Homo sapiens: one gene and its partners. The protein of the gene in region 1 interacts with the protein of each later gene in a pairwise test. Each region holds a gene or a part of one and is shown in the gene's direction. Other genes may lie near its edges.

Region 1 (7,836 bases):
AGGCGTGGTGGTGCATTCCTGTAATCCCAGCTACTTGGGAGGCTGAGGCAGGAGGATCACTTGAACCACGGAGGCGGCGGTTGCAGTGAGCTGTCATTGCACTCCAGCCTGGACAAGGAGAGCGAAACTCCGTCTTAAAAAAAAAAAAAAGGTGGCTTAACTGTCCTCTCTGTCATGGCCTCTCCCTCCCTCTTGCCCCAGTGGTATTTGGCTCTTTTGTCTGTCTTGTTTTTCCCAGACTGACCAGCCTTGGGGTTAACCAGGGGCAGGGTGACAACTCACAGGCAATGACGTCCCTCAGCCTCCTTCCCCCCACACTCCAGAGGCTGCAGGTGACTCAGGGTCTTCGTCGGTGGCTCCGGAAGCCTTGCAGGTGCCCTGCCACATGGCCGCTGTGCTGCTGGCTGCTCTGACGGGTCCTGCCGGGGCTACTGCTTTCCTGTCCCCTCCCCCGAAGCTGGGAGATGGATTTCCTCCCTGAGTGATTAATTGGTCTATTTTAAGCTCATCAAAGTAGCCTCGTACTTTCAAGTTCCTCAGGGAGCAGGCCCGGAAGATGATACCTGCGGACTTAAGGCTGCTCCACTGCAGGATATGGGGTCGGGGGCTGTGTCTGTCAATTGTGAGGTCCCTCAGGGCAGGCCCCCTCCTGAGCTGGACAGGGCTTGGCTCCTGAGTGCTGATTCTGCAGGCTGTGGCTCAGTTCTGCACTATTACTCTGGCTCCGGCAAATCCTCATGAAAATAAGCCTGGGAGCCCCGAGGGTTGCAGGTTAGCCCCCTACAGCCTTCCCTTGCATCATCCTTGCTCCTCTAACCAGGGACACTCCTGCCTCCTCCCTGACTATCTCTGCCGGGTTAACACCTGAGCATCTTCTGGCTCGATAATTCTGTCATGACCCAATACGCCTTCCCTGACCCTCACATCTGGGTTGAGGGCCTTCCTATGCCCTGTACCTAATCCTGGTTTTCCCTCTGTAAGGTGGTCAGAGATGGGCTTGGGCAGAGTAGTTTCAAAGGCTCTCCCCAAATCTCTGTGCAGCTCCCCTGACTGAAGGCCTGTGAGAACAGGGTGGTGCCTGTCTTGTTCACTGTTCCCCAATACCTCACCTAGTGCCTGGCACAGAGAAGGTACAAAAATAAAACTTTCCCAAGAATGAATGGTGTGCATTTGAATCTTATAGTGTCTGAGGACTGGGGAACCATCTCTTATCCCTTTGTATCCTCTGCTGCCCAAGGTCAGGGCCTCTGCCTGAAGTCCCTACTGAATGAGGGTTAACTGGTTCAGAGATGAGGGAGGAAGCCATTGCTGGGAGGGGCTAGAACTGGGCCCCTGCCCTTCCCACACCCGAGCAAGAGCAGTAGGATTGTCAGATGAAACACAGGACATCTGCTCACATGTGAGGAATACATCTTTTTTTTAAGACAGATTCTCTCTCTGTCACCCCAGGCTGGAGTGCAGTGGCATGATCTTGGCTCATTTCAACCTCTACCTCTTGGGTTCATGCCATTCTCCTGTCGTAGCCTCCCCAGTAGCTGGGATTACAGGCATCCACCACCATGCCTGGCTAATTGTTGTGTTTTTAGTAGAGACAGGGTTTTGCCTCATTGGCAGGCTGGTCTTGGACTCCTGACCTCAAGTGATCCGCTCACCTCAGCCTCCCAAAGTGCTGGGATTACAGGCATGAGCCATGGCACCCAGCTGGAATACATCTTTAGTATACTGCATGTAATATTTGGGACATGCTCATGCTGAAAAAACTAACTGAATTTGAATTTTTTTTTGGTTTTCTTTTTTTGAGATGGAGTCTCACTCCATTGCCCAGGCTGGAGTGCAGTGGCACAATCTTGGCTCACTGCAACCTCCGCCTCCTGGGTTCAAGCAATTCTCCTGTCTCAGCCTCCCAAGTAGCTGGGATTACAGGTGCCTGCCACCTTGCCCAGCTAATTTTTGTATTTTTAGTAGAGACGGGGTTTCACCTTGTTGGTCAGGCTGGTCTCGAACTCTTGACCTCAGGTGATCCACCCACCTCGGCATCCCAAAGTGCTGGGATTACAGGTGTGAGCCACCGCACCCGGCCTGAATTTGAATTTAACTGGGAAGCCTTTTTTTATTTTTTCCTCTTCTTTCTGAATCTGGTAACCCTAGCAAGGGAGAAGTGACTAGCCAGGTGCCAGGTGGGTCTACGGCCTGAGTCTCCAGCTCTCTATTCACATTCTGCCTGCTTCCTTGATGCTTCCTCCTCCTTAAATGCTTTCTGTCAGAGACCAGGGGGCACTCTAGGCCTGGCTGCCCAGCACGCGGAATCCAGGAGCACTCCTACCTCCTAATCCCTGCCCCAGCTGCCCTCTGGATGGTCAGGGAAGGCCTGAGGAGGTGATGTTTGAGCTGAGATTTGAGAGAATGTGACCAGAGATGATCCAGGAAAGAACATTCCATGGAGAGGTGGGAGTGAACTTGGTGCATCTGAAAACAGAAAGGCTAGCGTGGTTCTGCGATGTGGGAAGGGAGTGGAAACATGGAAACACAGTCAGCATTTCCTTTTTTTTTTTTTTTTTTTTTTGAGACGGAGTTTTGCTCTTGTTGTCCAGGCTGGAGTGTAATGGCGCGGTCTTGGCTCACCACAACCTCTGCCTCCTGGGTTCAAGTGATTCTCTTGCCTCAGCCTCCGGAGTAGCTGGGATTACAGGCATGTGCCACCCCGCCCGGCTAATTTTGTATTTTTAGTAGAGATGGGGTTTCTCCACGTTGGTCAGGCTGGTCTCTAGCTCCCGATCTCAGGTGATCCGCCCGCCTCGGCCTCCCAAAGTGCTGGGATTACAGGCGTTAGCACAACTCAGGAGGCCCTGGAACTCATCTTGTGCCACTCAAGAAAGGGCAGGAGGGGTCCTCTCCTTTCCCACCTTTCCCAAGCTGAAGGACTGCACACTTCTCAGGCTTCCAAGGCAGGAGCTTCGGCAGCAGGAACAGGGTTGCAAGGTAGTTAGTCTGGGTGTCTGTCGTCCTGGGTTGGGACATCTGGGAGCTGGGGCAAGGCCTCTGGGCCCTAGTGCCAGAGAGCAGTTTGGTGGCGTTGCCTGTTCTTTAAAATGGGTTAGGTGTAGCCATGAGCCCCCCCATGCAGCGGGTGTGCAGGCCTCTCCCTCAGTCAGAACACCCTCACCCACCCCTCCCCACTTGAAGCAGGCCCTTGAGAACACTGCTGGCAGGGAGGCGGCTGCTCTTCCTCCTAAGGGAAAAGCCTGCAGCCCCGTGCTGCTGGGCCGTGGGGTGAGGGGGAAGCCAAAGGGCCCCTATCACCCCTCAGCAGGAGTCTCTCCTGGCTTTGGAAGGGGCTGAAGGCCCGGGGCTCTCACGAGGGAACTCAGCCCTGCTCAGCCGGTCAGGACTCCTCCTCCACGTCTAAATCCACAGACCAAACAAAGGACATGGCTCAGTTCCACCTTCAATCCACAGGGATTCTGCCTGTTAGCACGCTAAGGAAACTGTTTCTTACTTTAAATTATCCATTAATTTCCTCCAACTGAAAGATACTCTACAAATTTTCTGTTGTTGGAGGGTTTAAGCTTGGTCCCTCTGAGGGGGTGGGCCCTGCTGTGTCGGCCCCTTGTGTCTGCTCGTGGAAGGTGTGCCATGTGCCACCGTGTGCCATATGCAGCTGACACGCCTGTGCGTCTCGCCTGGCGCTGGAGACTGCTCTCTGTGTACTAAGCGAGTACTGGATCCCCAGGGCCTATCTTGCCCACTGCCTGTGGCAATACACAGGCAATACACAAAGCGCATTCAAGTAAGCAGGTCTCCCTGCCCCCCGGCCTCCCAGAACCTCGGTGCCTGGAGGGCAGGTGGGGGAGGGCGTTCCTGAATGGAGGCCGGTTTCCCTCTGCGGGGAGGAAACCCCATTTCCCTCCTACCCCTAGGCGCTTGCTACATCTGGCCCGGCATCAGACAGGAAAGAACCCTTTCTTCCCAGCTTGTAGGAAGTCTGAGCTGGGCCCCTTATCTACCCACAGCACTTCCTGGACCGGGGGCCTGGACCGGGCTCCGAAGGGGCTGGCTCCCGGTCTTGGTCTTGGCCTCGGCGCCCTCGTTTCTCTGCGCTTTGGGCAGGGGAAGCTGCGGACGGCAAGCTCTCGGCTTTCGTGAGAGCCTGGTGGAATCGGTGTTCCCCGAAGGCTACTCTGCGGGGGCGGGGGCTAGTCCGGGCCTTCCCGGCAGTATCGTCTCCCCCGTGGGGGCTGGGGAGGTGCCCCCAGGGCTCCCGGAGCGGCGGCGTGGCCAAGGCCCGAACCGGGTCTGACATCTAGTGGCCTCCTGGGCCCGGGCAGGGCGAGGGCGGGGCAGGGAAGAAGGTGGAGGGCAGAATGGGAGGCGTGGAGCGAGAAAATCAGGAAGCGCGGGACCAAGCCGGGGAAGGGCGGCGGGTCTCGCCCCTGGCACCCGCTCTCCTCGGGGCCCGTCCCATCCCCCAGGCCTGGCCGACCCCAGGTCCTTCCGTGCGCAGTCGGGGCTCGCAAGGACGAATCCCGCGGCCCTCGAGGCAGGCCCGGGGGAGCTCCCGGCCCTCCACCCCCGCAGGCCGCAGATCCCACGCACCCCCGATCATGGGGGCCCCGGAGGGAGGTCGCGAGGCCGGGCTCACGGTGGCCGCGGTTCGCCCACGTGCGGGCCCGGAGCTGGCAGGGCCCGGTCCCGAGCGTGGCCGCAACCGCGGGGACCTGGCACGTGCGGGGCAGCCCCGGGGGCCGCGTACGCCACTTCCGGTCCCGGAGACACCGCCCAGCCCGCCGCCCGGTTGCCATGGCGACGCCGTCGCGCCACGGCCCGCAGAACCGGCCAAGCGACCCGGGCGCGGCGCGGGGAGGCTGAAGGGACGCTCGGGTAGGCAAGGTAGGAGGCCGGGCTGGGGGTGGGAGCGGAGCGCGCAGGGGTGCGGGGCGGGGGCGGCCCAGGTGAGCCCTGACTGCGCAGGGAGGGACAGCGCGGGGCTCCCGAGTAGCAGCCGGCCTCGCACCTGCCCCTTGCGGCCGCGCACTGGACTGCGGCGCCGACCCGCACCCTGGGCCCGAGGGCTGCAGGGCTCGCCCGCCCTCTCGGAGCCGAGCCTCTCCCGGTCCAGGCGGCCCCTGCCCTGGCCTGCCCGGGTGCCGGGTCTCTGCTGAAGTTAGAACCGAGACCCCCGCTTGCTGGTGACCCCGAGTTTGGATCTTTGCTCCTGCGCCGCGTTCTAGAGCAAGGTAGGGTGCAAATGGACCAACCAGCCTTTGCCACGGCTGCCCTCTTGAAATCTGAAACCGGAGCCACCGCCTCTTGCCCCGAGCAGGGCCCGGGCTGCAACGTGGAGCCGCAGGTCCCCGCCTGTGTCTCCCGACGCCCCCAGCTTCTGAGCGCGAGGGTGGGAGTTTCCCGAGTGGGAAAGCCCCATGGCTTCGGTGGCCTCGGTGGCCCTGTGGTGGGTCAGGCCGGTGCCAACTGCGCTGAGGGCGGAGCTGCCGCCACCTTGACACCTGGGAGATGGCAGGGCCACCCTCCCTCCCTCCCTCCCTGCCCTGTCCCCGACTGTATCACGGAGCGAGGATCATCCGTGTGGATCTGGGGTCCCCTTCCCAGACTTCTCCTTTCTGGTCGTCCTCCTCTCATTCATTCCACCTTGGCAGCCTTTGTGGATTTTCTGACTCCGTAAATGAAGTTACATCTAGGGCGCCTAGATTCTGCCCCTTTGGTTTAATAGCTAATGAAAAAAAAAAAAAAAAAGCTTTGCCACCTCCTCTAGGTGCCTGGATTTCTCCCGGTGAAATTTGATGGAGGCAGGAAAATACGAGGCGGTGGCAGCCCCACCTCCTTGCATGAGGGAGCCTCCTAGAGCTGGAGGTGGAACCACCCTGCTTGTCCCACTCCTTTTCTTTCTTGCTTTATTGCTTTCTTGCTTTCCTTACTTTCCTTCCTTCTTTTTTTTTTGAGATGGAGTCTTGCTCTGTTGCCAGGAGGCTGGAGTGCAGAGGGCAATATCAGCTCACTGCAACCTCCATCTTCCGGGTTCAAGCGATTCTCCTGTTCCAGCCTCCCTAGTAGCTGGGATTACAGGTGTGTGCCACAACACGCAGCTAATTTTTGCATTTTTAGGAGAGACGGGGTTTCACCATGTTGGCCAGGCTGGTCTCGAACTCCTAACCTCAAGTGATCTGCCCGCCTTGGCATCCCAAAGTGCTAGGATTACAGACGTGAGCCACCGTGCCCAGCCTTGTCCTACTACTTTTCTGCCCTCACCACTTTTCCTTGGCAGGCAGAGCTTGGGCTCCTGCTAATACTGGGATGGTTCAGTGGCATTAGATGGCATTGGTGGAGGGGAATGAGAAATTAACCCCCTCTGAAAGCGTAGCTTCACTGGGAAAAAGCACTCTACTGTCTGAACAATTCATAAATGAATTTTGGGAATATACAATGTCACAGATTAAAAGCAGACCATCCTGTGTTCTTCCAGCCCCAGGAGCTTCTGCTTGGTGTGCAGGGGCTAATGGTGGACAGCAATGGAGTGTAGATTTATTAGAGACGGCTGCCATCTGGCTCTCTGTGGCCCCAAACCTCATGTGTCAGCAGTGTGACTCTTTCTAAGGTGCTCTTAGGACCAGATTTCGTTTTTGTAAGATTGGTCTTTGATGGAATGCCTACTTTGTGGCAGGCACTGTGCTGGGCGCTGGCACACCTTTATCCACTTACTCCTTCTGTGTTCAATAAGGTAGCTCCAGATATCCTCCACTTTATAGATTAGGAAGCAGGCTTGGAGAAGGGACTTGGCTTGTCCAGGAGCTGATGGTTATAAATAATGAGTCTGTTTTGAAATCACATCTCTCTAACCTGGGCTGCGCTGGGCCTTTCATGGGCCGTTGGCCCTCTGGCCTTCACGGGCCCCGTCTTCCATAAAAAAAATAATAACAATTGGCCCGGCGCAGTGGTGAAAGCGCGTCTCTACAAAAGATACAAAAAATTAGCCAGGCATCGTGGAGCACGCCTGTAATCCCAGACTCGGGGAGTCTGAGGCAGGAGAATTGCTTGGACCCGGAAGGCAGAGGTTGCGGTGACCCGAGATCTTGCCATTGCACTCCAGCCTCAAAAAAAAAAAAATTAATAAAAATTATATTTTACAACTGCATTGGTATAAATACAAGTATAGTCCAGACTGGATTACAATTAATTTTAAAAACAAAACATTTTAGGGCTGGCTCATGTCTGTCTGTAATCCCAGAGCTTTGGGAGGCTGGGGCAGGAGGACTGCTTGAGACCAGGAGTTTGAGACTAGCCTGCACAACATAGTGAGACCCTATCTCTCCAAAAAAAGAAAAAATTAACTGGGCATTTCAGCATAGCTGTAGTTCCAGCTACTTGAGAGGCTGAGGTGGGAGGATCCCTCGAGCCCAGGAGTTCGAGGCTGCTGTGAGCTATGATCATGCCATCGTATTCCAGCCTGGGTGACAGAGGTAGACACTGTTAACAACAACAACAAAAAAATTAATTAAAATAAGTTTTAAAAAATTGCAACATTTTCCTCAACCCTAAATGTTCATTTTTTTCTTCTGATTTTCATGGAAATGGAAACATTTTGGTTTGTAAGCATTGGGAGCCCTCTGTCTTGTGGGAGAAAGGAGCTCAGTGTTTGACTTCAGGCTCTGCTGCTTCCTGGGTACCTAGTTCCTTGGTACCTGGTCCAAGCAGCCTGGATACCCCGGGTCCCTGGGCTGCCTGGGCCAGGACAGCCGCCCTAGGATAAATGGAAATGCAGCCCCTGCGGCTTGTTCACCCTCCTGTAATGCCTTCTCTCTTACCCTTTGGTCAGGGCCTGGT
Region 2 (6,899 bases), on another chromosome or scaffold:
ACGCCCGGCTGAGATGGGTATTATTATTATCTTTGCTTACGGATAAGGACATTGAGGCACAGGGGCATTAAATCAATTGCCAAAGGTCACACAACCATTAGTGGTAGAACTGAGATTTGACCTGGGTAGTTTGGCTCCACAGCCTGGGCAGGCAACCACTGCCTTTTGCAGCATGTCTATCAGCATGCTATGTGAGCTTGGGAAAATCATCTTATTTCTCTGTACTTAATTTAATTTATAATAAAATGGGGATAATAATATGTACCCTAACTCCCTCCCTGAGTGATTGTGAGATATCAGGACAAAACAAAGTTATAAAAGTGCAGTAAAATTCAGTATGGCTATTCAAACATTCAAACGAGGAAATACATTAGATGGCTTATTTCTTTAATTACAAGGAGTTTAAAGCCACAATTATCCAATTGCCCTTTATCTGTGCTTCATTATAAATATCCTGTTCCTCTTTTTAAAGGAATAGATATACTTTTAATTTTTTTTTTTTTTGAGACATGTCTCTCTCTGTCACCCAGCCTGGAGTGCAGTGCCGTGATCATAGTTCACTGCAGCCTCAAAATTCTGGGCTCAAGCAATCCTGCACCGCAGCCTACTGAGTAGCTGGGGACTGCATGTGAGCACCACTATACCTGGCTAATTTTTTTTTTTTTTTTGAGACGGAGTCTCGCTCTGTCACCAGGCTGGAGTGCAGTGGCGCAATCTCGCCTCATTGCAACCTCTGCCTCCCGGGTTCAAGCAATTCTCACTGCAGCCTCCACCCCCTGGGTTCAAGCAATTCTCCTGCCTCAGCCTCCCAAGTAGCTGGGATTACAAGCACACACCACCACGCCCAGCTAATTTTTGTATTTTTAGTAGAGACGGGATTTCACCATGTTGGCCAGGATGGTCTCGATCTCCTGACCTCATGATCCACCTGCCTCAGCCTCCCAAAGTGCTAGGACTACAGGCGTGAGTCACTGCACCTGGCTCGATTTATGTATGTTTTGTAGAAATGGGGTGTCACTCTGTTGCCCAAGCTGACAAAGAATTCTTATTATTATTATACTTTAAGTTTTAGCGTACATGTACATAACGTGCAGGTTTGTTACATATGTATACATGTGCCATGTTGGTGTGCTGCACCCATTAACTCGTCACTTAGCATTAGGTATATCTCCTAATGCTATCCCTCCCCGTTCCCCCACCCCACAACAGTCCCCGACAAAGAAATTTTAACACAGTTGAAACTGTACAACTATGGAAGGTGCCACCTTGGGAATGTCTGGAAAAACTAAAAAAGTTAAAATGGCAAAAACTCCAAAAATTATTGGGTGTCCTGTGGCATGCTAGGCCTTATCTAAAGCACCTTTCTGGATTACCTGATTTTTTAGTGATTTTTGCCTTATAAAATCTTGCAGCTATTTTCCAACTTGGTAAGTTGTAGAAAATTCATAGGAATGCCAATGATTCTTGTCCATAGAGATGCCTGGTAGAAGTGCAATTGCTCTCCCAGCACCCCGAGGCCAGTTCTGCATTTATTATTTATTTTTATTAAAAATATAATTTTTAAGACAGAGTTTTGCTCTGTGGTCCAGGCTGGAGTGCAGTGGTGTGATCTCAGTTCACTGCAACCTCTGCTTCCCAGGTTCCAGAGATTCTTCTGCCGCAGCCTCCCGAGTAGCTGGGATTTGTAGGCGTGCACTATCACGCCCGGCTAATTTTTTGTATTTTTAGTAGAGATGAGGTTTCAAGATGTTGGCCAGGCTGGTCTTGAACTCCTAACTTCAAGTGATCTGCCCGCCTCAGCCTCCCACAGTGCTGGGATTACAGGCATGAGCCACTGCACCCGGCCAGTTGTGCATTTATTAACATGTTCGTTTCAGCATTCCTGATTGCCTATATATGTGTGTACACTTTGTGTTTTCCTCTGGACAGGGCTAGCTTTACTGGTCTCCTCATTCATTAATGAATTAAAGTCTTTGATGTGTGTGCATTTTATATTTGTAGAGGAGTCATGATTTTACTCTTTTCAAAACAATTATCCTGTAACAGGAACCCTCTGAGCAGAGGCAGACAGGCCACCCTTGATTCCTGCTGTGGAAAGAGAATTTTTTACTCCAGACCCCAATGGTCCTTTTCAGATTCCTAACGTGAAGGGTTGTTCATATCTCGGCCTCTCGCGGAAGACTCTATTTTCTTGAAGCGCGGGGAACTACGTATTCCCACTAACAAAAATCTGTTAAGGGGCAGGGCGCAGTGGCGCACGCCTGTAATCCCAGCCCTTCGAGAGGCCGAGGCGGGCGGATGGCTTGAATACAGGAGTTCCAGACCAGCCTGGGCAACATGGCGAAACCCTATCTCTACGAAAAAAACACAAAAATTAGCCGGGCGTAGTGGCGCACGCCTGTAATCCCAGCTACTTGGGAGGCTGAGATGGGAGGATGGGTTGGGCCCAGGGGATCGAGGCTGCAGAGAGCGGTGATCGCGCCACTGCACTCAACTTGCGCAACAGAATGAGACTCTGTCTAAAAAACAAACAAACAAACAAACAAACAAACAAACAACCCCCAAACTCCCCAAAAATGTGTTAGGGGAAGGAGGTGGGACAGTGTGTATTTCTGATCTACTCGCCTTTCCTAGTATGACCACCAGGGGGCGCGGAAGCCCTCCTGGTACTAAGGCGGGGACAACCTGCCCAGCGAGCACAGCGGGCAGAAGGAAGTGTGCCGGACGCGAGAGAGAACTACGGCCGAGACCCGCGGGGCCGGCTCAAAGCCCGACCTCTGCCATACGCACCGTATCTTTATGGGAGCCGATGAGGTCAGCAGGGAGCACGCGTTCAGATGGCAGAAGAGGGCAAAGTACTGCTAGAATTACAAAGATATTTACAGCTTTTTAACCTGAAAGCACAGAGCAGATCCTATTCTTCAGAATTAAATCTTCGGCTCGCCAGTCCCGTTTATGGATCTCCACTCTGATGAATGTGCCATTTGTTCCCAAGAAGACAAATAGGGTAGGGAGAAGAGGGAGAGGCGGGGAGAAGACTCGAGATAAAGGGACGATCTGCTTTTCGGAAGCAGAAGCCGCCTGGGAACCACCTGCACACCAAGCAGGCTGCGAGGACGGGGAGCGCTCCAGTGCAAAGTTCTGTATTTTAAAGCCCCTCCTCGCTCACAGGCTTCACAGCGAACTACGAAGTGGGTACCATCTCTGATTTACAGACACGGGAACGGGGTCCTCTTGAGAAACGATGCTTTCCCAAACGTCTGCAAATTGTGAGTGCCAAGTGTCTCCACTGGCACTAACAACATCGAGCTGCTTACGTTTCTCGGAGCGGTCCCGATTTCCAACAAGCAAAAGATCCAAATTCTCTGACCACCCTGACCGTCCTGTATCTCCAGATCTCCAGGTCTTTCCTCTGGACACCTCCTCCATCCCCCCACTTTCACTGCCAGCAGCCCTGAGGCTGCGCGGGATCCCGCTACTCGGAATGCCTTCCTCCTGGCGGGATATTTTTAGAACACTCGACTGCCACCCAATGTAGCCCACATCACATTGTCTTATTTGTTTTCGGGAGCTTGTCCCCGCCTAGCAAGGAGTCGGCTAAGAACTGGATCCTAGCGAGGAGCCCGGCACAGACAGCGAATGACCGCAGCCAGACAGTCGCTCTTGCTCTTCCTCGGCCCTGCGGCAGGATCCGCCGGTGCAGGGGCCTCTCCCCGGACTCCACGCGTGTCTGGAGGGCTCTCGGGTTAGGGAAGGGGGCTTTGGAGACGCCCCGGGCGGCCGGGCGGTGGCGGGACGCGGGCCCTTTAAGAAGGAGCGAGGGGCGCGGCCAGGTAGGGGCGGGTCCAGGGCGGATCAGCGCTGCGCCGGCGCCGGCCCGGGAGCCGGATTTGGAGCGCGAGGCGCCGGTGGGGGCGGAGGGGGCTGCGCGGCGGAGGCTCCCGTGGCCTCGGACGCTCCTCCTAGCTAGCGGCCGCCGCCCGCCGCCGCCTGCGCCTCCAGCTCCTTCGCCCCGGCGGGCCCGGCCGCCGCTTCCGGCAGCTCACCTGGGAAGCGCTCACCTGGGACGCGCTCACCTGGGACGCGCTACCTGCCTCCGGGCGCCTGGGCTTCAGGATGAAGGACCGTCTGGAGCAGCTGAAGGCCGTGAGTTTCGCCGCAGGCGGGGTGCTGCCAGGAGGGGTGCTGCATGGGAGAGGGGCTTCCCTTTGCTCCCCAAGTCGAGGCTGGAGGGGGGCCCGAGCCGGAGGCTTGCCCTCCCCAAGCCCCCACCGCTTCCCGCGCCGGTTCCGCACCCTCCCCTCCCCTCCCCTGCGGGGTCATGTGCCCGGTGATTCATCGCTAGGCAATGATTTTCCTGAACGCCTCTAACTCTCCCACCCCGCAAGCTGGACAGTGTCTGTCCAGAGCTGGTTCCCGAAGCGGGTGCTTGGGCCCGGGAGGTCAGGGGTCCCTTCACCACCTGCCCACTGCTGCCTGGCACTATGCCCAGGACCAGCCTCCTTCTCCCTTTCCTGTTTCTCTCCTGAGGTGCTACAGGCCTGGCTGCCCCTTCCCCCAGGGAGCAGCTCAGAGCTCTCTGGTGACCTCTGGAGCTGTGAGCCGGTCACATGCTGGGATGGGTCAGCTCCTCTCCAACCGGTGGTCTGTAATTGTTATCCCCGGGTGTCATTGTCCCCCCCTCCCCCGCCGTATCTTTTGGAACAGCTGTGGTTAGGTCAAAGGATCTGAAGGTAGACTACCTCCAGCCTTGGCTGCGCAAAAGCTGTAAAGCCTTAGGTTACTTACTGTGAGTCTCTGTTTCCTTATCTATCAAATGGGAATGATCATACCCTAGGAATTTGTTGGGAGGATCAGCTGATACAATGGAACTTGATACAGAAAAGGGTTAACGCATAGGGTTTTAAGCCAGATATTCATTGACTCATTCAGTACATAATTATTGAGTGTATTCTATGGGGAGGTCCAGTGCTAAGCCTTGGAGATTCAGTGGCACAGGTTCTACCTTAATAGAATTAAAATCTAGCCCTTGACACTCAAGAGTTTAGTCCATCTACTTTGGAGCTTGTTACAAGTGTAGCAGCTTAGGCCTGAGTCTAGCCCCGCAGAATCAGAATCTAATTATTCATCCATTTCCCCAGGTGATTCATGGGCACATTACAGTTTGGGAAGCACTGGACTGGATTAGAACTGGGGTTGTCTCCTGGCTCCACTGCTTACTGGTGATCCCTTAAAATCCCAGCCTAAGTTTTGTCATTTGTAAAATGGGTAGTTGTAAGGTCGAAATGCAACAGAAGATGCTTAAGAACACTTTTAGGGTGCATGGCACGGGGGACTTAATAAATGGTGAAATATGCTAATAACTGTGAGTGCTCTTGGGAAAATGCAGATGTCAGGGACTGCTGGGATGATGTTACAAGAGTTTATCCTTTTTCTCCCTTGCTTGGATGAGACCTTCATTCCTGTTTCACCTGTTCTGTGTAGCAGGGCTGCGGAGGAGGCAGGTAGCTGGGGAAGTGAGAGAAGCAAAGGGACAGTTGCCTATTGTGGGAGTGGCCTCTCTGCCTCAGGCTTGTGCTTAGTCATCTCAGCCTCACAGCGTCCAGGTTACTGATGGGGCAGAATTTATTGCCCCTGTTTTTATAGATGGGGAAACTGCTGCTCACGGGGTAGGAGGGATGCTCCAGGACACAGAGCCGGCCAGGGCACCACCAGGAGAGGAACCCAGGCTCTTGACACTCTCCACAGTGCTCCTTCCCTTGAAGCACGCTGGTTGGGGAGGCAGAAGGAAAAGAAGAGCACGATTTTGAAGATCTCTCTGTGTCGGCACACCCAGCAACCATAAAAAAGTACAAAACTGAACAGCAGGCTCTTCCATTTATTAGGAAATCCACTTCCAGAGGAAGATACTCCATGGCCCCTTTCAGTAGCTCATTGTCAACAATGAGCAAAGAGTCTTAACTGAGCTTTGAGTTCCAAGAATAAATTTAATTTGCCTGGGGACGCTGAGCAAGTCTCTTTGCCTCTCCTCGGTGCCTCATGGTTACCCTCTGTACAATGGAATTAATGATAGGTTTCCTCCCCTTCCCTCTTGGGGATGTGGTGAAAGTGAGACTGGAGATGGTGGTGGTATTATGGGAGGATTGTTCTGAAATCACAGGGTGGCTTCTGTAGCGTCTTGGAGCAGATGCATGGCAGCGTGGGACAAAGGGACACAGGTGGCAGGTTCCAAGACTGATCACTGTGCTTCTTTGCGTCACTTCTCTGCTTCTCAATTCCTCCTTTATACAACAAAGAATTGAGTTGATCTCAGAAGCCCCCTCTGGCGTTATTATAGGTTTTTCTTTGAAGACTGTTAAGGTTTATGTGGATTTTGGTGTCAGTTCACCTCCTCTTATCCCCTCTCCCCAGCCAGACTCCCAGGGATCACCCTCACTGAAACAAGATATGCGTCTTCTCCCTCTGATTTCCGTTATCAATTAGAAGCGTTTGTTAACCTGCATGAAACAAATTGCACATTGAGCAGCCTATGCAATCTCTTTCTGTGGTGTTCTTTCTAAATCCTGGGGAGGGGAGGTGGTAACTGCCTCCCGATAACTGGAGGGCTTTCCGTGCCTGTGATTGACTTTGTTCTGGGTAGATACAAAGAGAACATGTGGGGTTGATGGGTAGAAATGAGGAATCTGTAAGAAAGCGTTTTTAGTAGACAGAGCTGCCCAAGGATGGAGTAGATGGTGCACCCTCCAGCATGGGAAGGAAGCAAGAAGCTTGTTGGGATTTTGAATGTTGTAGGAATTTGAGCATCTCTTGGAGGGGAGGTGAACTAGGAGATATAAGGCCTTCACCAACCTTAAGAATGTGTGGTTTTATAAAATGCTTAATTGTGAGCCTGTCCTGAG
Region 3 (7,024 bases), on another chromosome or scaffold:
CTAGGGTCCTTACTGCACATTGGAGAGTGATGTGGAGACCCTTGGATAAGAAATGGAAGGGAGAGGTATGTTGGTGAGCATCATGGCATTGGGAGGGCTGGTGTGCTTAGGGTCAAGAGTAATAATTTGGAAGTACCAGTGGGGGTAGGAAGATGCAGACAGGACTGTGGTCCCCTCGTATCATGGCAGGACACATGATTTCTCCTCAAGGGCCTTCAGGAGGAGCAGTGACTTCTGGCGGAGGAGACTGTCGAGCCACAAGGAAAAAGCCCACAGGGGAAAGTAGGCAGAGGGGAGTTTATTTAAACTGTCCTCTACTTTCTAGGGGAGAAACTTTCCCTAAACACTCCCATCTTCTGCCCCTCCATGTCACTCACTCCTTTGTGGGAGGTGGCGTGACTGATTGAGTGTGTGATGAAGAACTGGACAAAGGTAGCTCAGCACCTTCTTCTGCTGCAAGTCGGCTGCCCATAGGAAGCGCAGAGTCTGGTCTGCCTTCCCATGGTGTCATTCCACAGGGGCAGTCCCCACAGGAAAAGGTCTCTAGGTTTTCATTTTGACCTGGAACCCAGTGGGTAAGGCTGTTTCTGGGTGTCAGAGACCCAGTATTAGGAAGTGCTTTGTCATCACTCACCAAAGCCATATTCTTCCCACGGCTGCATCAGTATAACAGACATTTAATCTTCATCAGCTTGACTCAGTCATCTCTCTTAGAACTTGGGCTGGGAAAAGAGGGATGGATACTTTATTTTTATTTTTATTTTGAGACAGGGTCTCGCTGCACTCTGTCACCCAGGCTGGAGTGTAGTGGTGCGATCATGGCTTGCTGCCTTGACTTCCCAGGCTCAAGTGATCCTCCCACCTCAGCCTCCCAAGTAGCTAGGACTATAGGCGCACACCACCATGCCTGGCTAATTTGGTTTATTTTTTGTAGAGACGAGGTCTCTTCATGTTGCCCAGGCTGGTCTCAAACTTGTGGGCTCCAGTGATCCTCCCACCTTGACTTCCTAAAGTACTGCGATTACAGGTGTGAGCCACTGCACCTGGCTGGAGGGGATGGGTACTTTAACCACCACCAATAGCAGCTGCTCTTTCCTTCATCAGATACTTTATGGAGGCTGAGATGTGTTTGGCTGTCAGTGCCAAACACGTGGAAGGTGCATTTCTAGCTCTCCAACAGCTCATTCTAGGCTGCAGCAGACAAGTTACCAGGCCGCATGGTATGTGCTTTGTAAGTGTAGGCGCAGGGTATCATGGGAGCATCTAGGAGGGATATCTAGTCCAGGTCAGCCTCAGGACTGAGACCTTTTTGAGGTTTTAGGAGATGTGAGAGAACTTCTGTATTTGTGTCCTTATATTGGGTATTTTTAGTAGTTTAGAGAAATGGCAGAGTAAGAAATGATCACACATAAGATATTTGGGGGCAACTGCAGTGAAGTGGAGTGCCCAGGACCACATAACTGCTGTGTGGCAAAGCCGGGACGCAGACACTGGGACCAGGGCTGTGGGGGTTGGAAAGAAAGTAGAAGTCATAGATCTGTCCTCAACAAGGTGTCATCTTAGAGAGAAAAAGGCAGAAATGCATTCTCAAAGGCTGAGGATTTTGAGTCGCATTGTTTTCTTGGGAAGGACTCATTAAGGGGAGTTGGGGGGTATTGAACAGCCATGAAATGAGAGGGCTGCACAAAAGACAGTGCCGGCTGAGTTCTGCTTTTGGAAAATGGCTAAAATGGCTCGTTCTTCTGACGCCTGAGGTGATTTCTTTTTCCTCTGGCTCTAGCCTAAGTTTAGAAGCTTGAGGCCTTAAGGTTCTTTATATTGTTCAAAGATGGGAGAGCAGGTCCATATTAAAAACAAAACAGGCCAGGCGCGGTGGCTCACGCCTGTAATCCCAGCGCTTTGGGAGGCCGAGGCGGGCGGATCACGAGGTCAGGAGATCGAGACCATCCTGGCTAACGCGGTGAAACCCCGTCTCTACTAAAAATACAAAAAACAATTAGCTGGGCATGGTGGCGGGCGCCTGTAGTCCCAGCTACTTGGGAGGCTGAGGCAGAAGAATGGCGTGAACCCAGCAGGTGGAGATTGCAGTGAGCCGAGATCGCGCCACTGCACTCCAGCCTGGGCGACAGAGCGAGACTCCGTCTTAAAAAAATTAAATAAGTAAATAAATAATAACAAAACAACACTGTGATGCTTTAGAAATCACAGTTTAAAATACTCGGCTTGTGTGCATCAAAATCAACAGTGGAGTTAAAGACAGAAAGTAAAATTAAAATCCTAGATGCTCAGGCCCAGAATTTTGGAAACTGGGGACTAGGTAGTTTCTCTTAGAAAGGTGCAAGGTGACTGTGATATAAAGCCAGGGCCGAGGACCACTGACTGATAGTATTATATTTTGTTCAGGCAGTTTAAAAAATTTTCTTAGGCCGGGCATGGTGGCTCATGCCTGTAATCCGAGCACTTTGGGAGGCCAAGGTGGATGGATCACCTGAGGTCAGGAGTTCAAGACCATCCTGGCCAACATGGTGAGACCCCATCTCTACTAAAAATACAAAAATTAGCTGGGTGTGGTGTTGGGCACCTGTAATATCAGCTGCTCAGGAGGCTGAGGCAGGAGGATAGCTTGAACCTGGGAAGTGGAGGTTGCAGTGAGCCGAGATCGTGCCATTGCACTCCAGCCTGGGCAACAACAGCGAGACTCCGTCTCAAAAAAAAAAAATTTTTTTTTTCTCATATCCACATGTTGGCAAAGGAAAAAAATGTCTAAAAAGACTCCTTAGGGGTAATGATAAAAGGCCTTTTTAGACATTTTTTTCCTAATCATTCCTGTGGAATGTGGAATTAGATAAACTATATCATTTATATACTGCATGCATATCTATGCTTTATACATACAATTAGAGCCATATTTTTTTCTTCACTTTGGGGGCGATACTCCCCCCAGTGAGATTGCATGCTCTAGCAGAAGAGAGGTCTTTGAAGACTCCTAAAGATGAACATGGACATTTTTTCCTCATAGATATAACTTGAGTGATGGCTGGGCATGGTGGCTGACCCCTATAATCCCAGCACTTTGGAAGGCTGAGACAGGTGGATCACTTGAGGTCAGGAATTCGAGACCAGCCTGGCCAATATGGACATGGTGAAACCCCATCTCTACTAAAAATACAAAAATTAGCTGGGCGTGGTGGCCAGTGCCTGTAATTCCAGCTACTTGGGAGGCTGAGGCAGGAGAATTGGTGAACCTGGGAGGCGGAGGTTGCAGTGAGCTGAGATTGCAGCACTGCACTCCAGCCTGGGCAACAGAGCAAGACTCCGGCTCAGAAATAAATGAATGAAAATAAAAATAACTTGAGTGGAATAATAATGATTATGATTGAGAGTCAGCTGTGAGGAGCACTTTGCTGACCACTTGATTTAATTCTCACAGCTATTCTGAGTTAAGTACTGTCAATATTTCTGAAACACACGGAGGTTAGGTAATTTGCCTAGAGTCACAAAACTAGTCTTGCTCAAGTTAAGATTCAAACCCATACAGACAGATTTCAGAGGCTGTGCTCTTAACCCCTTCCCTCTACAGCCTCTCATGACTCCGAATCTCAGAATTGCATCATCGTAAAAAGCCTTCATGGAATCCGGAACCTTGCCATTATTGGAAGTTCACTTTGTGCCTTTGTAACTTATCTGTTGTAGCCATCTGTTCTCCCTCTCTCTTCCACATGGATTGTCAGGCTTTTCCCATAGAGAAGCAGATGATGATGGGATATTGGATTGAGTTGGGAGAATGGGAAAGGCATTTCAGTCCCCAAGTCCAGCTGGGGTGGAGGGAAGGGGTTGTCCAGGTTGCCTCACTCTTGCTGAATCAGGTCACAGGTGGAATTGGAAGGGAGTAAAAAGGCATTGGCATTGAGGGTGAGGTGGTGAGTAGAAGATATTTTGAAAATGGGAGGATTTCATTTAGAAATCTTTTATGAGAGAAAATTTGAATTATTGATCTTCCTAATTGTCTTTCAGTATTCCAAGAAAGTCCACTTAACTTGGAGGAATGAAGTTTCCCACTGATAAACTTCTTTAATCCTGTCACACTCAAAACTTCAGAAACAACCAGAAAGCCACTATCTTCCTTGTATTTTTGTTTTTATTTATTTTATTTTTTGAGACAGAGTTTCACTCTTGTTGCCCAGGCACTCCAGGCTGGAGTGCAATGGCGCCATCTCAGCTCATTGCAATCTCTGCCTCCTGGGTTCAGGCGATTCTCCTGCCTCATCCTCCCAAGAAGATTGGATTACAGGCTTGCGCCACCACGCCTGGCTAATTTTGTATTTTTAGTAGAGACAGGATTTCTCCGTGTTGGTCAGGCTGGTCTCGAACTCCTGACCTCAGGTGATCCACCTGCCTCGGCCTTCCAAAGTGTTGGGATTATAGGCATGAGCCACTGCGCCCGGCCTCTTCCTTGTATTTTTAAAGAAAATGCATTGTCATGACCAGAATTTTCCCTTGGTTGGTTGGCTGATGAGAGTGTATATATAAATGCATGTATTTCAAGTCTTACTTTTCATTCTTTCCTGAGTTGTGTATCTCTTTTTCTCACCCCCATCTCCCATAGATTGAGACTTTCTGAAAGCATGGATTGTTTAAGTATGGCTCCCTCTGCAACACTTGATATTCTTAGAAGCAGATTTTTAAGCTATTAGTAAAAACTTTTAAGATATGTGACGATTCATTAAGTGCTGTCAGACCTCTTACTGTTTTTATCTCCACAGCTGGTTTCTCTGTGGCAGTGCCTTGTTGCTTGTCAGTTTATCAATTGCATTTTACTGCATAGTCTACCTGGAATGGTATTGTGGAATTGGAGAATATGATGTCAAGTATCCAGCCTTGATACCCATTACCACTGCCTCCTTTATTGCAGCAGGAATTTGGTAAGTTAACTTTGAAATGACTAACAGGAATGAACAACAAATTTTTTTTTTGATCAGATAGTGATATGCTTGGTCCAAACTTCGAAAGAAAAAAAGTTAAAACAGAAAAATAGTCTCCTGGTCATTCATGCTCTCTGGTTCCCTTTTGATTAGTATCTCTTTCTCCTTCTATTTATGGATCTAGTTATTTAAAGCACAGATGGTGACATTCTGTACATATTCTGCATTTTGCTTTTTAAATCTATTTTATTATGACATACAGTACATATAGAAAAGTGAAAAAAACTGAGATGAATGAATTAGTGAATGAATTCTCATGAAGTGAGCATTGGTGTAAACTGAGCCAGCACACTGGGAACCCCCTTCATTCTCCCTCCCAGTTACTACACCTTCCCTCCTGCCACAGGTAAATACTGCCCTGACCTTCATGGTAACTACTTGCTTTGCTTCCATTAGATATTCTATTTTTGTTTCAGCTACGCTTTTGAACTTTATAGAAATGGATTTGTACAGGGTGTATTCCTTCACATTGAGCTGGCTGTGTGCAGCATTGTGTGCAGTTCTTTCATATTGTCGCCGGGAACAGTGACTCATCTTCATTGCTCTTTAGCATTCCATTGTTTAATTGAATCCCAGTTTTCTTTTCCCTTGTTGATTGTGTTTAGATTTTTTTCAGTTTGGGGTTACTATGAAGGATGCTATAAAGAGCATTCTTGTACATGGCTCTTGTAGCACAGTGAACACATTTCTGTTGGGTGTAGAGATGTATGTATATATGTATATATATGTACCCCAAGGGGTAAAATTGTTGGATGTACGTACCTTTGACTTCAGTAAATCATGCCAAACTGCTTTCCAAAGTGGTTGTTTGTCCTTTTCTCCTTTTGTTTTTCAGTGGATCCTTATAGTTTGGGATTCTTCCATAATGGTACATATAGATGTGTCTCATTTTTTTAAACAGTTGCATAGTTTTCACAGCATGGACATAACATGATTTATTTAACCTGTCTTCTGTTGTTGGACTTCGTTATATTTATACCCAAACAATGCCACAATGAATAACCTTCTTCATAAGTTAATTAAATACTCAATGAAAAATACAGGGTTTTTTGGGTTTATAAAAGTAATACTTGCTCACTGAGGAAAAAAAATCTGTAAATTACATGAAAACACAAAGGAAATATATCCTATGATTCAACCAGAAAGAAAACTACTTTTCCTATGTTGTGTGCAGCTCTCTAGTTTTTTCTTTCTTTATATCAATTGGATTTTTTTTTCTTTTTGGAGATAGGGTCTCACTGTGTCACCCAGGCCGGAGTGCAGTGGCATGATCACAGCTCACTGCAGCCTCGACTTCCCAGGCTTAAGTGATCCTCCTGCCTCACTCAGCCTCCCGAGTAGTTGGGACCACAGGCATGTGTCACCACATCTGGCTATTTTTTGTATTTTTTGTAGAGATGGGGTTTCGCTGTGCTGCTCAGGCAGGTCTCAAACTCCTGGCCTCAAGCCATCTGCTTGTGTTGGCCTCCCAAAGTGCTGGATTACAGGCGTGCGCCACCACCCCCGGCCTAATTGAATTTTTATTTTGGAAGAACCATATACCTTTATACATATTCTTTCTATGACTTATTTTCTGTAGTTGAAGTTCAAGGTTGTTTGACAGTGTGATGTGGTTATTGTTAACCTGTATGTGGGGGCATGCAGATACGTTGTTTTACTTTTTCCCATGAGGGTAAGATCATGTCCAGAAATGTTAATTTTTTAGACAGTGTGATTTGTGATTATAGTTATTTAATACTCATACTTATCAAACTATTATATATTAAAACCAATAACCATCTGAACTTATTTGAATATAGTTTTCCCTATTCTGTTCTTAGAAATTTCAGTCATTAAAAATCTTTATACTTAGTGTTTTAATTTTACTTTGATGACAGGAATAGTGTTTTTCTCAATGAAAGATATAATAGCAGCTTATAAGTGATAACTGTTTTCATTCTGTTTTTAAGAGACAATATTTTGGTCTTTTTTACCATGATAGTTTAGTGTGTGATGTCATAAAAATGGGCTGTAGCCATTTAAATTATTGTTGAAGTCAGAAA
Region 4 (6,806 bases), on another chromosome or scaffold:
CTTTCCTTTGTGGTCAGGCCACACTTCCCCCTCTAAGAGGCGCGGGTTAACCCACTTCGACCCTATCTAAGCTGATCTCTGGTTTCTTCTGCCCACCTGAGCCTCCCTGCCCCTCTTTCCTCCTAGACGGAACAAAAACGAGGTCCATTTTGTCGCTCCAGGAAGGGACTGGTGGAGAGCCGGCTTCCTTTCCTCCCAGGGTAGTACAGTGGGGAAGGTTCCCCTCCCCCACCTCTTTTCCCAGACGTGGTGGATGGGGGAGGGGACTTCGCTGGAGGTGTTAAAGTGCCATTGAGATGGTAACCACACCAAGGGGCCCCCACTTTTCCATATCAATGGCATTCCAGTCCCTGATTAGGCCCCAACCTTAACCCTTCCTTTCCCAAGATCCAACTGAATCCAGGTGCACGGGGGCCTAGGAGAGGGTCTAGGACCTCCCAACCTAGGTCTAGTGAGGGCTGAGGACAACAGGCTAATTGCTACCCATGTGTCCTGGGAATCCTCCCACCATGGGCAGCTCCCCAACCACCCTCTTCCAGCCTCTCCTAGGCTCCAAGATGTTTCTCCACTTTTACTCTCCCCAAGGGGCTTGGGGAGATACTGTGTTTTATCTTAGAGACTTGGGGTGGGAGGAGCCTGAAGCCGCACAGGGCCACTGTGAAGGCAAGTCCAGTGGGTTGGTCACTGAGGTGGGGGTGTGCGCATTTGCTGAGCAGCCTCCACCCACTCTGCTGGCTAGTCCCTGGAGTGTGGGCTTGCTTTCCTTCTTGCTCCGGTGTGGAGATGTTGGGCCAAAGAGGAATTGGGGTCTTAAAAACCTGGGGTCGGCTGGATGCGGTGGCTCACACCTCTAATCCTAGCAGTTTGGGAGGCCGAGGCAGGCAGATCACGAGATCAGGAGTTCGAGACCAGCCTGGCCAATATGGTGAAACCCCGTCTCTAATAAAAATACAAAAATTAGCCGGGTGTGTTGGCACATGTCTGTAGTTCCAGCTACTCGGGAGGCTGAGGCAGGAGAATCGCTTGAATCCAGCGGGCAGAGGTCGCAGTGAGCCGAGATCACATCACTGCACTCCAGCCTGGGCAACAGAGCGAGATTCCGTCTCAAAAAAACAAAACAAAACAAAACAAAACACAAACCTGGGGTCCCCGAGCAAGTGCGGTGGCGCTTGCCTGTAATCCCAGCACTTTGGAAGGCTGAGGCAGGCGGATCACCTGAGATCAGGAGTTCGCAGACCAGCCAGACCAACATGGTGAAACCCCGTCTCTGCTAAATACAAAAAAAGAAAAAAAATAGCCGGGTGTGGTGGCGCATGCCTGTAATCTCAGCTACTTGAGAGGCTGAGGCAGGAGAACAGCTTGAACCCAGGAGGCAGAGGTTGCAGTAAGCCGAGATTGTGCCATTGCACTCCAGCCTGGGCAACAAGCGCAAAACTCCGTCTCAAAACACAAACAAAAAAACCCCTGGGGTCCTCTTATGCCCTTTCCGGGCACAGCGCTCACTGGATGTGTGCAGCCCGCCACTGGGCTACAACGTAGGGGTTTAGAGCTGAATGTGGAACCGGTGAGTCACCGAGGCAGGGCCCGACAGCAAGTGGACCAGCCGTCCCGGTTTCCCTGGAGGACCCAATATTCAAGCTGGGAATGTCCCTCAAAAAAGTGGGATGAGCCGATCACCTTAGGCCCTAGGACAAGGAGGACTTGTTCCGGCCCAGGGAAGAGAATAGCCCCTGGGTTGGGGCTGCTGGGTGGGGGGACTTCCAGGGAGGCAGGCTTGCTGCTGCCTCCTGACAGCTGCCCAAACCTGTGTGGCTGGATTCCTGGAGGCCCCTGGAAGGCTGCGAGGGAGCCCGCTGACCGGCTTGCCTCCGTCTGCAATCTCTGCTCTCCCCACCCCAACCCTGTGAAATCTGAGCCCCAGGGGCTGGGTGAGCTGGACAAACCTGCCACAAGATTCCCTGAGTCCACTGATGGCCATTTTCCAGCCTCTGTATCACCCCCCCATCTTCCAGACTCTGTGGGGCCACCAGGTCAGCCCCCCTCGTACCGGAGGAGCCCCCCTCAGTGGAGAGGCCCAGGGGGTGGTGAAGAGGAGGCCAGGCTTCTGTTTACCTTACAGACCAGCTGATTGGCGCTGGCCTGTCTCTGTGTTTGCAGGGGAGGATCTTAAGCTGTTTTGGGTCAAGGCCCCTTTGCAAATCTGAAGGAAAGTATAAATCTCTCTTCCAAAAGTATCATTTTTTTTAAGAGACAGGGTCTCACCTAGGATGGAGTGCGGTGGCATAATCATAGCTCACTGCAGACTCTAACTCCTAGGCTCAAGAGATCCTCCTACCTCAGCCTCCCGAGTAGCTGGGACTACAGACAGGAACCACCTAACTCAGCTAATTTTTGTGTATATATATATATATATATTTTTTTTTTATTTTAGAAATGGGGTCTCACTGTGTTGCCCAGGTGGGTCTCAAGCTCCTGGCCTTAAGCAATCCTCCCACCTTGGCCTCTTAAGCGCTGGGATTACAGGCGTGAGCCTCAGTGCCCGGACCCAAAAGATGCTAAAACCCTTTCGCAGAAGCGATGCTCATACCCCTAGGTTTGAACCCTGACCGCTCCTTGAGGTTAGAGCCCTTTATACACAATGTCCCACCCACTAGGTGAGGGGCACTGAGCAGGGGTGTGCCTGGCCACTGGCTCCCCGAAGGCAATGCCGTGAAGTGGTGCAGCCACCAGATGTGTGTGGTGGGCACCTCCAGCCCTGCCCGCACTGGCCAGTGGGCTCCAGCACACCCCAGCCCTCCCAGCACCAGGCAGGTGAGAGGCAGTCCCAGGTGAGGGCCCACTCTGAGGATCCTCTGTACCTCCCTGGAAAGTGTATGAATGGAGACAATGTTCCTCACATCCCTTTTCCTTTTTTTTTTTTTTTTTTTTTGAGACAGAGTCTCCCACTGTCACCCAGGCTGGAATGCAGTGGTGCGATCTCGGCTCACTGCAACCTCTGCCTCCGGTTCAAGCGATTCTTCTGCCTCAGCCTCCCAAGTAGCTGGGATTACAGGCACCCGCCACCACGCCCAGCTAATTTTTTTTTTTTTTTTTTTTGAGGAGTCTCTCTCTGTCGCCAGGCTGGAGTGGAGTGGAGTGGTACGATCTTGGCTCACTGCAACCTCTACCTCCCGGTTTCAAGTGATTCTCTTGCCTCAGCCTCCAGAGTGGCGAGTGGCTGGGACTAGAGGCTTGTGCCACCACGCCCAGCTAATTTTTGTATTTTTAGTAGAGACGGGGTTTCACCATGTTGGCCAGGATGGTCTCGATCTCTTAACCTTCCGATTTACCTGCTTCGGCCTCCCAAAGTGCTGGGATATCTAATTTTTTGTATTTTTAGTAGAGACGGGGTTTCACCATGTTGGCCAGGCTGGTCTCGAACTCCTGACCTCGTGAATCGCCCACCTTGGCCTCCCAAAGTGTTGGGATTACAGGCGTGAGCCACCGCACCTGGCCGTCACACCCCTTTTTCAGACAACAATCCTCAGAGGTTCTTAGCACCCAGGCAGGGGCTTGAAGGAGTTCATGAACCCTCCCCCACAAATGAGGGGCACATGTTTGTGGGTGCATGTTCTGTGAGTCCCACGGGGTTTCTCAAGTGGGTCTTTGACCAAAGGAGGTTAAGGACCTCGACCTTCCATGACCTGTCCCAGGTAGGGGTCAGGATTTGAGCTTTGGTCAGTGGGACTCCCAGGCTGTCCCCATGAGTGGAATCACAGGCTCTGAGGGGGTTTTTCCGGAGGTAAGGCTTTCCTGCAAACTGGAAGGCAGGTCTTGGGGACACTTGAGTCCCTGGACTTAACCCCCGTGCCCACCTCTGGGGTGTTTTGGCCCGGGAGGCCTGACTGGCCACTCACTCACCCACCCATGGAACATAACCGGGTCCTGGGCTGTGCCCCACCCTGGGTTCCAGCCCCAGCCCGTCCCGCCTCCATCCCCCTTCCTGAGTGCCCCCCAACCTCCACAACAGGCCCCTCATCCTCTGGCCTCTGGAGATCTTAGGCAGCTCAGCTCAGCCTCGGTTTCAGCAGCAGGGGTGGCAAGAGCGCACCTGAGCTGAGGTTGAAGTGGGGGGTAGTTTTCTAGGCCGTTGCCAGGGCGATGCCACCTGAGCTGGGCGCCAGGCACCTGTCGTCTGGGGAACAGTGCAGGCGGGGACCTTCCCCCGGGAGCTAGCGGGGCCACTGGGCTGAGACGGGGGATGGATCAGATTCCAGAGAGTCCCAGGCGGGCGGGAGTGTGCGATACTCGGGGAGCTGGGGCATGTTTGCATCACGAAACTCGGCTGGGGGAGAGCAGAGGCAGCTGGGGAGGGGCTGCGGAAGGAGGAGGCTCAGGAAGGCAAGCCGACGCCCCCTGTGTGTGTTTCTGTCCTGAGCCTGTTACTTTTTTGACCCCCGATCCGTCTCTTCTTCCTCAGCTTGTCCTCCATCTTCCCCTCCTTTACCCTTGGTTCCCACATGCACAGATGCTACGGACGCTTTTCCTCCCCTGTCCCCACTCAGCCGCAGCATCCCCCGCTGGCCCCCAGGCCCCTCATCCATCCGCTGCCCACGAACCCCCAGCCCCGCACCCTCCCCGTGGCTCAGGTCTCCCCTATCCCGGCCTCCCTGCACTTCACTCTGCTCCTCCCCTGCCTGGGCCTTAAAACCCCGCCTGCAGCCGAGAGCCCGCAGAGTCCCCAGGTGGCACTGTCAGAGTCGCTCAGTGGGAACCTGCGCCAGCCGGCAGGAGACGTGGCTGTCCTCAGCCTGGCAGTGCGTCTGGAGGGCCTGTGCGAGCTCAGCCCAGGTGTGACAGCGGGGTGGTAAGAGCAGCAGCACCCTCAGGGCATCCGATGGGCGGAGGCCCCTCGAGGTGACACCCACCACTCAGCCGAGCGGGACTACGAGTCTGCTTTGTGCTCCGCGAGGACCAGAAACACCTGCAAGAGGCACGGAGAGGAGGCGCCTTTCAAGAGGCGCCTTTCATGGAACTGAGGACTGGCCTGGCTTGGGGACACCAACAAGCCTTCCCCCTCCTGCTGGACACAGAGACACCCACCCAGCACACCAGACACACCCTCTGAGTCACCTAGGCCGCCTGGGGCTGAGAAGACCTAACCGAGGGGCCAGATGGCTTCGACCGGCTTAGAACTGCTGGGCATGACCCTGGCTGTGCTGGGCTGGCTGGGGACCCTGGTGTCCTGCGCCCTGCCCCTGTGGAAGGTGACCGCCTTCATCGGCAACAGCATCGTGGTGGCCCAGGTGGTGTGGGAGGGCCTGTGGATGTCCTGCGTGGTGCAGAGCACGGGCCAGATGCAGTGCAAGGTGTACGACTCACTGCTGGCTCTGCCGCAGGACCTGCAGGCCGCACGTGCCCTCTGTGTCATTGCCCTCCTGCTGGCCCTGCTTGGCCTCCTGGTGGCCATCACAGGTGCCCAGTGTACCACGTGTGTGGAGGACGAAGGTGCCAAGGCCCGTATCGTGCTCACCGCGGGGGTCATCCTCCTCCTCGCCGGCATCCTGGTGCTCATCCCTGTGTGCTGGACGGCGCACGCCATCATCCAGGACTTCTACAACCCCCTGGTGGCTGAGGCCCTCAAGCGGGAGCTGGGGGCCTCCCTCTACCTGGGCTGGGCGGCGGCTGCACTGCTTATGCTGGGCGGGGGGCTCCTCTGCTGCACGTGCCCCCCGCCCCAGGTCGAGCGGCCCCGCGGACCTCGGCTGGGCTACTCCATCCCCTCCCGCTCGGGTGCATCTGGACTGGACAAGAGGGACTACGTGTGAGGCGGAGGTTTCCCCTGGGAGCCCACTGCTCCCCACTGCCCCGCCCTTTCGACCTTGGCCTGATGACCAGATGCCCTGCTCCATCACAACCTCCTTCCCCAGGAAAACCCACTTTCCAAAAGCCCAAGCTACACCTGGCTGCAGGGCTGGGTCAGCTGGCCTGGCTGAGCTCTTCTCAGTGGGGTCCCCTTTGATGTTCTCCCCCAAGTTGGGCAGCCTAGAGGTGTTGGGAACCCTGGCCTGCCCCCACCTCCCCAGTAATTGTTTCCTTCCGTTGCCCAGGACACTGGCTGGCCTTCCTTCTCTTCTGAGCCCTCCCCTGCCCCAGGAACCCTGGCCTCACCAAAACAGCAGCAGCTCGTTGGCTCCAAAACCAGGGAGCAGACCATGCCCTCCCAACCCTGGAGTTGTCAGGGAGGGCCTGCCCATCACCTCCCTCTCCCCAACATCCCCACCCTCGAGTTGGAAATAAAGAGCATTTGTAACTGGGCTCCCTCTAATCTGTGCGCCGCCGCTGGGGCTGGGCAGGCACAGCCAGGTGGCCTCCCTTGGTGGCTGTCAGGCCAAGGTCTGGCTCTAGGTTCTGCCTGGTGGGTATGCTCACTCAAGCCACGGGGAGAGGGGATCGTGACTCACTTATGCCCATCTCTTCCCCTAGCCAGGGTGGGCACTCAGTAACCCGCTGCAACACCAAATGCACTAACAAAACATGCTTTATTTGATAAAAATGTGAGTGTAAAGGGGGTGAGACGAGGGGGGCAGGGCAGAAGGGTGCAGTGTTGGAGGTGGGGGCGGGGGTCTACATAGCTGGGACCTGGCCCTGGGGGGTGGACGTCTTATCAGGACGGAGGAAACAGAGGTCAGAAGTTCCGGAGGTGGGCAGTCCTTTGTTAACAGATCATTTGTTTTTCCAGGGGTGAAGAGAGGAGCTCCAGAGACCTGAGTAGGATGGGGGGCAGCTGTCCAGTGACATCTAGGGAAGCCCAGCCCCCAGCAGCA

Evidence for each region.
Region 2: the proteins of CYB561 (region 1) and STX3 interact in binary tests that used the Homo sapiens proteins (3 or more experiments, as listed by UniProt).
Region 3: the proteins of CYB561 (region 1) and TMEM128 interact in binary tests that used the Homo sapiens proteins (3 or more experiments, as listed by UniProt).
Region 4: the proteins of CYB561 (region 1) and CLDN9 interact in binary tests that used the Homo sapiens proteins (3 or more experiments, as listed by UniProt).

Annotation. Positions count from the first base shown.
Region 1 is NC_000017.11:63,443,296-63,451,131, reverse strand, and holds the start of CYB561 (transmembrane ascorbate-dependent reductase CYB561), read left to right. Parts: upstream 1-4,825; 5' UTR 4,826-4,887; exon of another isoform or gene 4,888-5,234; intron 5,235-7,836. UniProt on the Homo sapiens protein: Transmembrane reductase that uses ascorbate as an electron donor in the cytoplasm and transfers electrons across membranes to reduce monodehydro-L-ascorbate radical in the lumen of secretory vesicles.
Region 2 is NC_000011.10:59,751,490-59,758,388, forward strand, and holds the start of STX3 (syntaxin-3), read left to right. Parts: upstream 1-3,886; 5' UTR 3,887-4,116; coding exon 4,117-4,146; intron 4,147-4,378; exon of another isoform or gene 4,379-6,899. UniProt on the Homo sapiens protein: Potentially involved in docking of synaptic vesicles at presynaptic active zones. Apical receptor involved in membrane fusion of apical vesicles.
Region 3 is NC_000004.12:4,238,219-4,245,242, reverse strand, and holds part of TMEM128 (transmembrane protein 128), read left to right. Parts: intron 1-4,763; coding exon 4,764-4,922; intron 4,923-7,024.
Region 4 is NC_000016.10:3,008,210-3,015,015, forward strand, and holds CLDN9 (claudin-9), read left to right. Parts: upstream 1-4,713; 5' UTR 4,714-5,153; coding exon 5,154-5,807; 3' UTR 5,808-6,296; downstream 6,297-6,806.